2 separate regions of the Homo sapiens genome follow, and region 2 is linked to region 1. Evidence: fine-mapped expression QTL. A gene starts in region 1. The other region holds a variant in brackets. All regions are shown on one strand. Distances are from middle to middle.

What was found. PIP is the estimated chance that this variant, and not a neighbour inherited with it, causes the effect.
Region 2: its variant is fine-mapped to the expression of PARAIL in whole blood (TOPMed, PIP above 0.99).

Annotation. Positions count from the first base shown.
Region 1 is chr8:89,755,065-89,759,460 of GRCh38, forward strand. PARAIL (palmitic acid regulated anti-inflammatory lncRNA) reads right to left here and starts at 2,647. Exons shown (of 5, transcript NR_125822.1): 1 at 1,981-2,647. It overlaps RIPK2 (receptor interacting serine/threonine kinase 2), which reads left to right and starts at 2,752. Exons shown (of 11, transcript NM_003821.6): 1 at 2,752-3,169. The coding sequence starts at 2,997. RefSeq lists a silencer at 2,498-2,617 and an enhancer at 3,158-3,227.
Region 2 is chr8:89,725,371-89,729,766 of GRCh38, forward strand. It overlaps PARAIL (palmitic acid regulated anti-inflammatory lncRNA), which reads right to left. Exons shown (of 5, transcript NR_125822.1): 2 at 148-271. Among named protein-coding and RNA genes, the nearest start is that of PARAIL, 30 kb to the right of the region's middle. RefSeq lists enhancers at 334-883, 459-508, 539-588, 639-738, 4,333-4,382 and a silencer at 4,083-4,132. The variant A/G (reference allele first, on the strand shown) is at 1,882.

The sequences.
Region 1 (4,396 bases):
CTTGTATTTTTTTTTACAATTCATTCTCCAATTTTATCCCATAGTTCATTAGATCTATCAAACATCTATCAATATAATTTCTCAAATACTCAAAATTAGATAATCTATCATTTCAATTACTGTAACTACTGTTTTCTCTTGAAGTCTGCCATCTCCCTGTTCAGTGAAAATGGGTTGCTCTCCAATTCTGCCATATTTCTCTCATCCTGGAGTTTCCCTTCTTAATTTCCTGGTCCGGTTTTCTGGATCTCATGTCTTTCTTTTTCTTGGGCTACTCCCATGTTTTGCTGAACACATTCTCTAGGAGCTTTCTTTAAAAAAAAAAAATGACATGGAAAGAAAGTATTTCATTCTTGTATATGTGAAAATGTTTTTATTCTGCCCTTACATTTGACGGAAAGTTTGACTATAGAATTCTAAGTTGGAAGTTACTGTCCTTCAGAATATTGGAAAAATTTCACTTCATTATATTTCAGGATAACAATGACTTAGTAACATTGTTAAGAAATTCAATGCCATTCTAATTCCCATCTCTTTAATTTTTGTTTCCGCCCTCTGAAAACGTTTAGAATCTTCCCTTTAGTGTTAGTGTTCTCACCCTTTTAATGATGTATGTGCCTTAATGTAGGTCTTTTTACTTGGTGGGCCCTTTAAATATGAAGACTCCTGCCCTAGCAAAAATTTTTAAATTATTATTTTGATCATTTCTTCCCTGTTTATTTTTTGTTCTCTTTTTCTAGGACTCAGGTTTTTAATTAATTGACTGGATAAACATGTCAGGCCTCTGAGCCCAAGCTAAGCCATCATATACCCTGTGACCTGCACGTATACATCCAGATGGCCTGAAGCCACTGAAGAACCACAAAAGTGAAAATAGCCAGTTCCTACCTTAACTGATGACATTCCACGATTGCGATTTGTTCCTGCCCTTCCCTAACTGATCAATGGACCTTGTGACACTCCTTCTCCTGGACAATGAGTCTCAGGAGCTCCCCACTGAGCACCTTGTGACCCCCACCCCTGCCCGCAAGAGAAAAACCCCCTTTAACTGTAATTTTCCACTACCTACCCAAATCCTATAAAGACTGCCTCACCCCTATCTCCCTTTGCTGACTCCTTTTTCGAACTAAGTCGGCCTACACCCACATGATTAAAAGCTTTATTGCTCACCCAAAGCCTGTTTGGTGGTCTCTTCACACTGACGCGCGTTAACAGAATGAATGGATAGAAAAGTCTTCTGAGTACTTTTTAAGAAAAAAGCTTATTGGCCGGGCGCGGTGGCTCACGCCTGTAATCCCAGCACTTTGGGAGGACAAGGTGGGCGGATCACGAGGTCAGGAGTTCGAGACCAGCTTGGCCAACACGGTGAAACCCCGTCTCTACTAAAAATACAAAAATTAGCTGGGTGTGGTGGCGGGCGCCTGTAATCCAAGCTACTTGGGAGGCTGAGGCAGAAGAATTGCTTGAACCAGGGAGGCAGAGGTTGCAATGAGCAGAGCAGAGATCGCGCCACTACACTCCAGCCTGGGTGACAGAGCACGACTCCCTCTCGAAAAGAAAAAAAAAAGCTTATTAAGCAATAAAGCACAGAGTATCAGACCATATGTTTAGTGCTGAACATTTTATTATAAATGATCAAAAATGTTTAACATACTATTGTTTACAACCTCCCACTACTGTAAAATCTAACATTGCTACTTTCATTTCAGGTAATGCAAAAATACAAGAAGCATTAGCTGTCTGTAGGCAGAAATCTGTTCGAGTCATTCCTTATTACTGAATCCCTAGAATTAATTAAACATCTAGTATGGAGTTGGTATTGTATATAACATTTGCACTCACGTCTTACAAAATAGTCATCTAAGTAGAAAGGTATTCAAGGCAGAAGGATGGAAAAACGTTTGCAGTCTTTTTTGGTTGGCATGAAACACTGACTGCATTCCTCCCAGATTTATAAGAAAGAAATATTTGCAGTCTTACCTGGAGTTAGATGGATGGACTCTCTCAAGGTTATTTTTCAATCTCTGCACATACATACTTATGGAAGTAAGAAAGAAGAGGGAGAAAAGGCAGATCCCCCATAACAGCGGTTAAACACCTGAACTTGCTCCACTATGACAGGGTTTATCATCCACCTCTCAGTCCTCAAGTGGCTGGAAATATGGAAATTGGAGTCCAGGTAGACAGGTGAGTGTACAACCTCTTAAGTGTGGAGCCCTCGGAATTCACAACACTCCCCAAATCGCTTCCTGCGCAGGCGCGGAGTCGGAAGGGAGTCGGAAAGCAGACCCCGGTGCCCCCTAATAAAGCCCCCAGCCGGACGCTGCCGCTACCGGGGTTTGGCAACTTCCGGAAGACCTGTGGCCCAAAGGAGAATCCTGTTGGGGGAGGCGGGGGCCGGTGGTCGCTAACCAATCCGACACCCGCCAGCAGGCTGAAGAGAGGGGCTTTCCCAAAAGGAAAACTTTCCCAAACCTGGGGGATGGGAAGAGAAGACAAAAGGAGCTCCCTTTCCCACTTCCCAGCCGCCCGTCCCAGCCCTCGGCCTCCGCTGCGCGACCCGGGCGGAGGATCCCGGCCGCAGGCCGAGGCGAGAGCCAGGCGGGAGGGCCGCGAGCGGGCTGCCCCTCTCCCCGCCTTGCCGTCCGCCGCTGACGTAACCTGCGAAGTTTGGGGAGGGAGGAGCTCGGGCGGCCGGAGCTGGTCGCTGCGCGCGCCGGGGGGAGGGCCGGGGCTGCGAGAGAGGAAGCTCTTTCGCGGCGCTACGGCGTTGGCACCAGTCTCTAGAAAAGAAGTCAGCTCTGGTTCGGAGAAGCAGCGGCTGGCGTGGGCCATCCGGGGAATGGGCGCCCTCGTGACCTAGTGTTGCGGGGCAAAAAGGGTCTTGCCGGCCTCGCTCGTGCAGGGGCGTATCTGGGCGCCTGAGCGCGGCGTGGGAGCCTTGGGAGCCGCCGCAGCAGGGGGCACACCCGGAACCGGCCTGAGCGCCCGGGACCATGAACGGGGAGGCCATCTGCAGCGCCCTGCCCACCATTCCCTACCACAAACTCGCCGACCTGCGCTACCTGAGCCGCGGCGCCTCTGGCACTGTGTCGTCCGCCCGCCACGCAGACTGGCGCGTCCAGGTGGCCGTGAAGCACCTGCACATCCACACTCCGCTGCTCGACAGGTAGGCAGTCACTGGGGTTCCCTGGAAGAGCCCTCAACTCCTGCATCCCCTCAAGCCCCCTGACAAGCGGGCTCTAGAGCCCAAATGGCAGTGACCGCTTGGGGCCGGCCTCACCTCGTCACCTCTAGGGAGCCCTTCAAGCTTGGGAGATAGGGAGCACCCACCCTTCAAGCTCTGGCACCGTAGGGAGCACAGGCTTCTCTGGAGATGCAGCAGTTGCATTCCTCCACACATCTCTCCATTACCCTTTCTCTCCTTCCCTCTTACTCCTAGGCGTTCTGGCTCCGTACTCCAAAAATCAGCAATCACTGCCTAACTCTAAACGCTGGGTTTACTGAAATTGATGTGTGTTTATATATAGTGGGTGTGGGTTTTGTTTGCTTTGTTTTTTCCTTATTTTTGAAATTGGGCTGTAGGGCTGCACTGTCCAGTAGGTAGCTCTTAGCCACAGGTGGCTATTGAGCACTTGAAATGTGCCCGTCCGAATTGAAGTGTGACCTAAGTGTAAAATACCAGAGTTCGAATGCTTAGTATTTATTAAAAAAAGAACTTATAATATTTTATTATTTGTTTATTGATTATATGCTGAAATAACATTTTTGATATCTTGGGTTAAATATAAGATTAAAATTCATTTTATGTGTTTCTTTTTACTTTATGTGGCCACGAGAAAATTTTAAATTGTATGTGGTGGTGTTCACATTATATGTTTATTGGACCGCACTGCTTTAGAATCAAGGATGTTTTGCTTCTTATTGTTTTTATTTTGGTTTTGGTTTATTATGTGTTGTCAGGAACGTTTTATATCAAACTCAATACTAGCAGTTCAGTTTCTCCCAGTCTCAGTTTCTCTCACAGGGAAGATTAAGTAGAGGAAATGTGTGCTATTTTTGCCACAATAAATTGAACCAAAAGACTGTTAAATGGCCAGAAATTGTAAATGGCTTTCACTTATTGGTTTGTACAGGTTTTAAGGGAAGGTTAGCATTAGTTTCTGTTTTCAGAAGAACATTACAACCGCGTGCCATAGACCTGTGACTGTGTATTAGTCAATGGGTCACTAGTCTTGTGTATTTTACTTCCTACAGGGATTTAACTAGGCCCAGCATTCAGTTCTTAGTGAGTTAACATCCATGATTACAACATTCTCTTCTCCTCCTCCTATATCTAATGTGAAAATACGTCATCCCCGATGCCTGATTGGCCAGAAGCTGTGAGTATCCAGCA
Region 2 (4,396 bases), 30 kb before region 1:
AGCTTTGAGCTAAACTCTTTGTCTCTTTTGGGACTTACATAGTTCTAACCCCCTCAAAAAAAATGCAATTAACATTTCATTTTACATATCTTGGCATCATTTTGGAATCCTAAAAACAGGAACTCAAATAACCACCTTTATAGATACCTGATGAGTTGTTTCAGGTTGAAGTAATGATCCAAGAGTTCAGAGAAGGAGATTGATGGTGGTGGTGTAGTCAGAAGAAGTGGAATATAACCTCAGTCTCAAAGAAGCAGAAATTTCCAATGAACTAGAGAAGAAGGAAGAATACAAATAGCGTCTAGGAAGTGAGAACAAGTAAATCTAGGGAAGCTTGTTAGGAAAAACTGGAAAAGAAAATTAAGTAGAGAATAAATAAAGCATTCAGGCTTTGAAACACAGGTAAATACAGTTACATTTAACCAGATAGGAAAATACAGAATCTGGAAAGTTTCTGGGCCACAAAGTGCCACACAGTAAAATCAGGCATCTGCTCCTGGCATGCTTAAGAGCTCAGAATAAAGGACTTCCCCATTCTGCCCCTTCCCCCACTGTAAAGCTCACTGGCTTAAAAAACTGCTCCTTCTGCTACTATCTACCTCATTCTAAGCATCAACTCTAGGTGGGGCTGGTGCCTAGGCATTTTATAATTACTTTTCTATGTCTGCCTAACTTGGCTGAGAACCTACTTCAGAACTGACTCAAAAATCTCACAGATGCTGTCATTCACCCTCAGGATCTGTGTTTAATAATAGAGTCACAAGGCCTATGCAATCCAACTCAGCCCAGGGTCTGGCTTAGCCAATGTCTGCCAGCTGGTCTCATCCCCACACCCCAGGCCCCCACTTCATCACCAGTACATTGGCATCAATATTTATCTTTTCAAATTGGCATGCAATTTAAAAGAATGTTTTTATCTCACAGATCAGCAGGTATCCTATTATTATCTAGTTTTATGCTGATTTTTTAGGAGCTAACTAATGAAAAGACTCAATCATTGTTTTTGTGGGAAGATGTTGAAACTTTACCCTTTCTGGGCAATCTGTGCTTCACTATTGTTTCACTATATTTGTAATATTCAAAACCTCAATAGTCAAAACAAGCATCCCATAATGCCAAAGCAGCCAACCCATTGCATTAGTGCTATGAGTGGTAACTGAGGCAAAAGAAGACCCTTAGAATTCTCTAAATGTTTTGAGGTTTAGGGAAAGAGTTGTATTAGAAAACAATCCTTAATCAGGTTGAGATTTAACTGCATTCAAAGTCAGTGTTAAATTCTTGCTAAGAGATTTGATGTTATACATGAGATTATATAAACAGGTACAAGTCACAGCAAATACAGGAGAGATAATAAACCAAAACTGACTGTCACAACTAGATCCTGAAAGCCAGTTTGGTAACTCTGGCACATTTTGCCAATTTCCATGTATAAGATCACATGCTACACTGTATGAATGAAAGTATTACATCCAATTAACTGATCTGCCTGTCATATGTTAGTCAGTAGAGAAATATTTATTGAACACCCCACAGATGAGTAATTTTAGAAACTATGTTAATAGCAAAACATCTAAAGGTAGAATAATTGCTACTTTTTCTGCATATGCCTAGCACAGTGTTCACCCTCAAAACAACACTAAGCTGGAAAAGAGAAAACCTTAGAGCAGAGCCAGGATCCAAAACTAAAATTAATTAATGTACCACAGTTCATGAAGCAGTTCCACATGCATTATCGTATTCACTCCTCCTATAACTCTTATAAATGAGAAAAGTGAGTTTCAGCAAGGATGAGCAATGTGAATACTAAAATAGAAACTGAACTTAAAACCAAGCACAATCCTGTTAACATGTTTTTATATGTGTGATTTAGGTTAGGCATAC[A/G]TTATGCAGATTTTTAGAGCCTTTGCACATCTGCCTACAAGTTATGAATACAAAATTACTAATTCATATTATGGTACTCACCTATTAAAACATTTTATTGCCCCAGAGTATAAGAGGATGCACACATGATTAACCATGACCATACATTAAAAATGTACCATCCAGACTCTGGAAAAACTTTTTGTTGTCTGTGGTAGCAAAAATAGTCATCTCGTTTAAACTGCACCTTCAGATCTTCTCTTTCCATAAATTTTCCTCGATAATTTATTCCCTACAAAATACTACTGATTTGATTCTTCATTCACTACCTCCCTAGTCTTCTTCTCATTTTAGCATGAATATTACTGAATCTCTTTACAGTGTTTCTGTTAAATATTTGTGTAGATATACATATGTATACTCTGCTGTCTTCCATGTAAGCTGCTTAATAACTAAGCTATCTTAGACATTTAATTTAGATGTGTGTACCATTTGATTACTCACTAAATAGAAATTTACATAATCCCTTTATTCTAACAAGTTTACCACCTTATCACAAAGCAAATCTAAAGAAAACTGCAAACCTGGCAAGGTGGCTCATACCTGTAAAACCCAGCAATTTAGGAGGCCGAGGTGGGCGGATTGCCTGAGCTCAGGAGTTTAAGACCAGCCTGGGTGATATGGTGAAAACTTGTCTCTATAAAAAATACAAAAATTGGCCAGATGTGGTGGTGCATGCCTGTAGTCCCAGCTATTTGGGGTGCTGCGGTGGGAGGATTACCTGAGCCTTGAGCGGTCCAGGCTGCAGTGGGCCATGTCTGAGCCACTGCACTCCAACCTGAGTGACAGAGTGAGACACCGTCTCTAAAACATATTAAAATAAATAAAACTGGAAATTTATGTTATTTGGTTCTGATGTTTACATGTCCAGCTATGGGCTCTGAAACAGCACCAATGCCATAGACAAAATCCTTAGAGAAGTCAGAGGAGCCACCTCTCTGACTGAGATAGAGAGAGGGCTCCTGGCTGAGTAATAACTACTGTATGAATTTGTCAATGTCCTCTAGTCAAAGACCACCAGCAACACATCTGCAGTTCTATAAAACTGGGTTTATTAATTCATTGCAAGGGGGAGAAACAAATACCATGGGAGACCCTTGAGCATATCAGTAAGAAGGTGTTAGAAAAAACTTACAGGATTTGAGTTTGTGGTAGGTGATTCGGGGGAGCTTTCAAGAAAATGGGGATCTTCCCTGGACTGGATGTTGTACAGAAACAGGGGGAATTCCCTGATTAGGTATCTTAATTATTCTTATCTAAACATTGAAAGGAATGAAGTAAGCTAATGCTATAATTGGAAAGAATCAGCAGTTATTCATTATTAGCCAGGAAAGGGGAATGTTCACTCATTTTCATGGATTGGACAGTGTTCTTATTTTTCTCTGTTCTGAAATGATCATGAAGTAGTCTAATTTCCATCTTGCTCCATTATAGTCACAAAGAGATCATGTGTGAAGTTTGTGTTCTGTGAAAATGTATATATTCAGAAAGAGAACTCCACAGCTTCACTGTGAGTGCTAAGCCAAGTCTTAGCCAGTAGTGCAAACTAGATAAGAAAGCTTTGCTCAAAGGGCAGAATTGGCCAGAAAACAACACTTATTATTGTCATTATTTACGAATATTGACAGGCTTATAAAGTCCTTATATATTCATTGTGTAACTTGAGCCTCTCAGAACAATCTTGGAAGATAAATAGACCATAGTACCTCCACATTGCACAACTTCAGGGGCCCCAATGATCATGTATTCCATGTGAATGATACCTCCCCACTGTGAACAACATCCCCACTGGAGTTGTACAAAAATGGCTGCCCTGGAAGGGCAGACATTTCTATTCTGTTTGACAACTATTAAAATTGAGCCAAAGAAGGTTCCTGAGTGCTCTTTATGTCCCAATAAACTCCACAGTTTTGTCATGTTCAGCTGCTGACGTTGGATCCCTGATGCAGTCATAGTTCCCCCTTCCAGAGAATTGCACCAGCCCGCCCTGTGATGACCTAGATTACACAGGCTACTACAATAAGAACAGCTCCGCCTTCTTCTACAACTGTATCTGCCCAAAACAGGATGTTAAAAAGGTTACTGAACTTATAACCTCCTTTCACAGTCACTTCTTAAGAAGTGTGTGTGTGTGTGTGTGTGTGTGTGTGTGTGTTGCCTTTTTTTTTTTTTTTTTTTGAGACGGAGTCTCGCTCTGTCGCCCAGGCTGGAGTGCTGTGGCGCGCTGGAGTGCAGTGGCGCGATCTCGGCTCACTGCAAGCTCCGCCTCCCGGGTTCACGCCATTCTCCTGCCTCAGCCTCCGGAGCAACTGGGACTACAGGCGCCCGCCACCACGCCCGGCTGATTTTTTTGTATTTTTAGTAGAGACGGGGTCTCACCGTGTTAGCCAGGATGGTCTCGATCTCCTGACCTTGTGATCTGCCCGCCTCAGCCTCCCAAAGTGCTGGGATTACAGGCGTGAGCCACCGCGCCCAG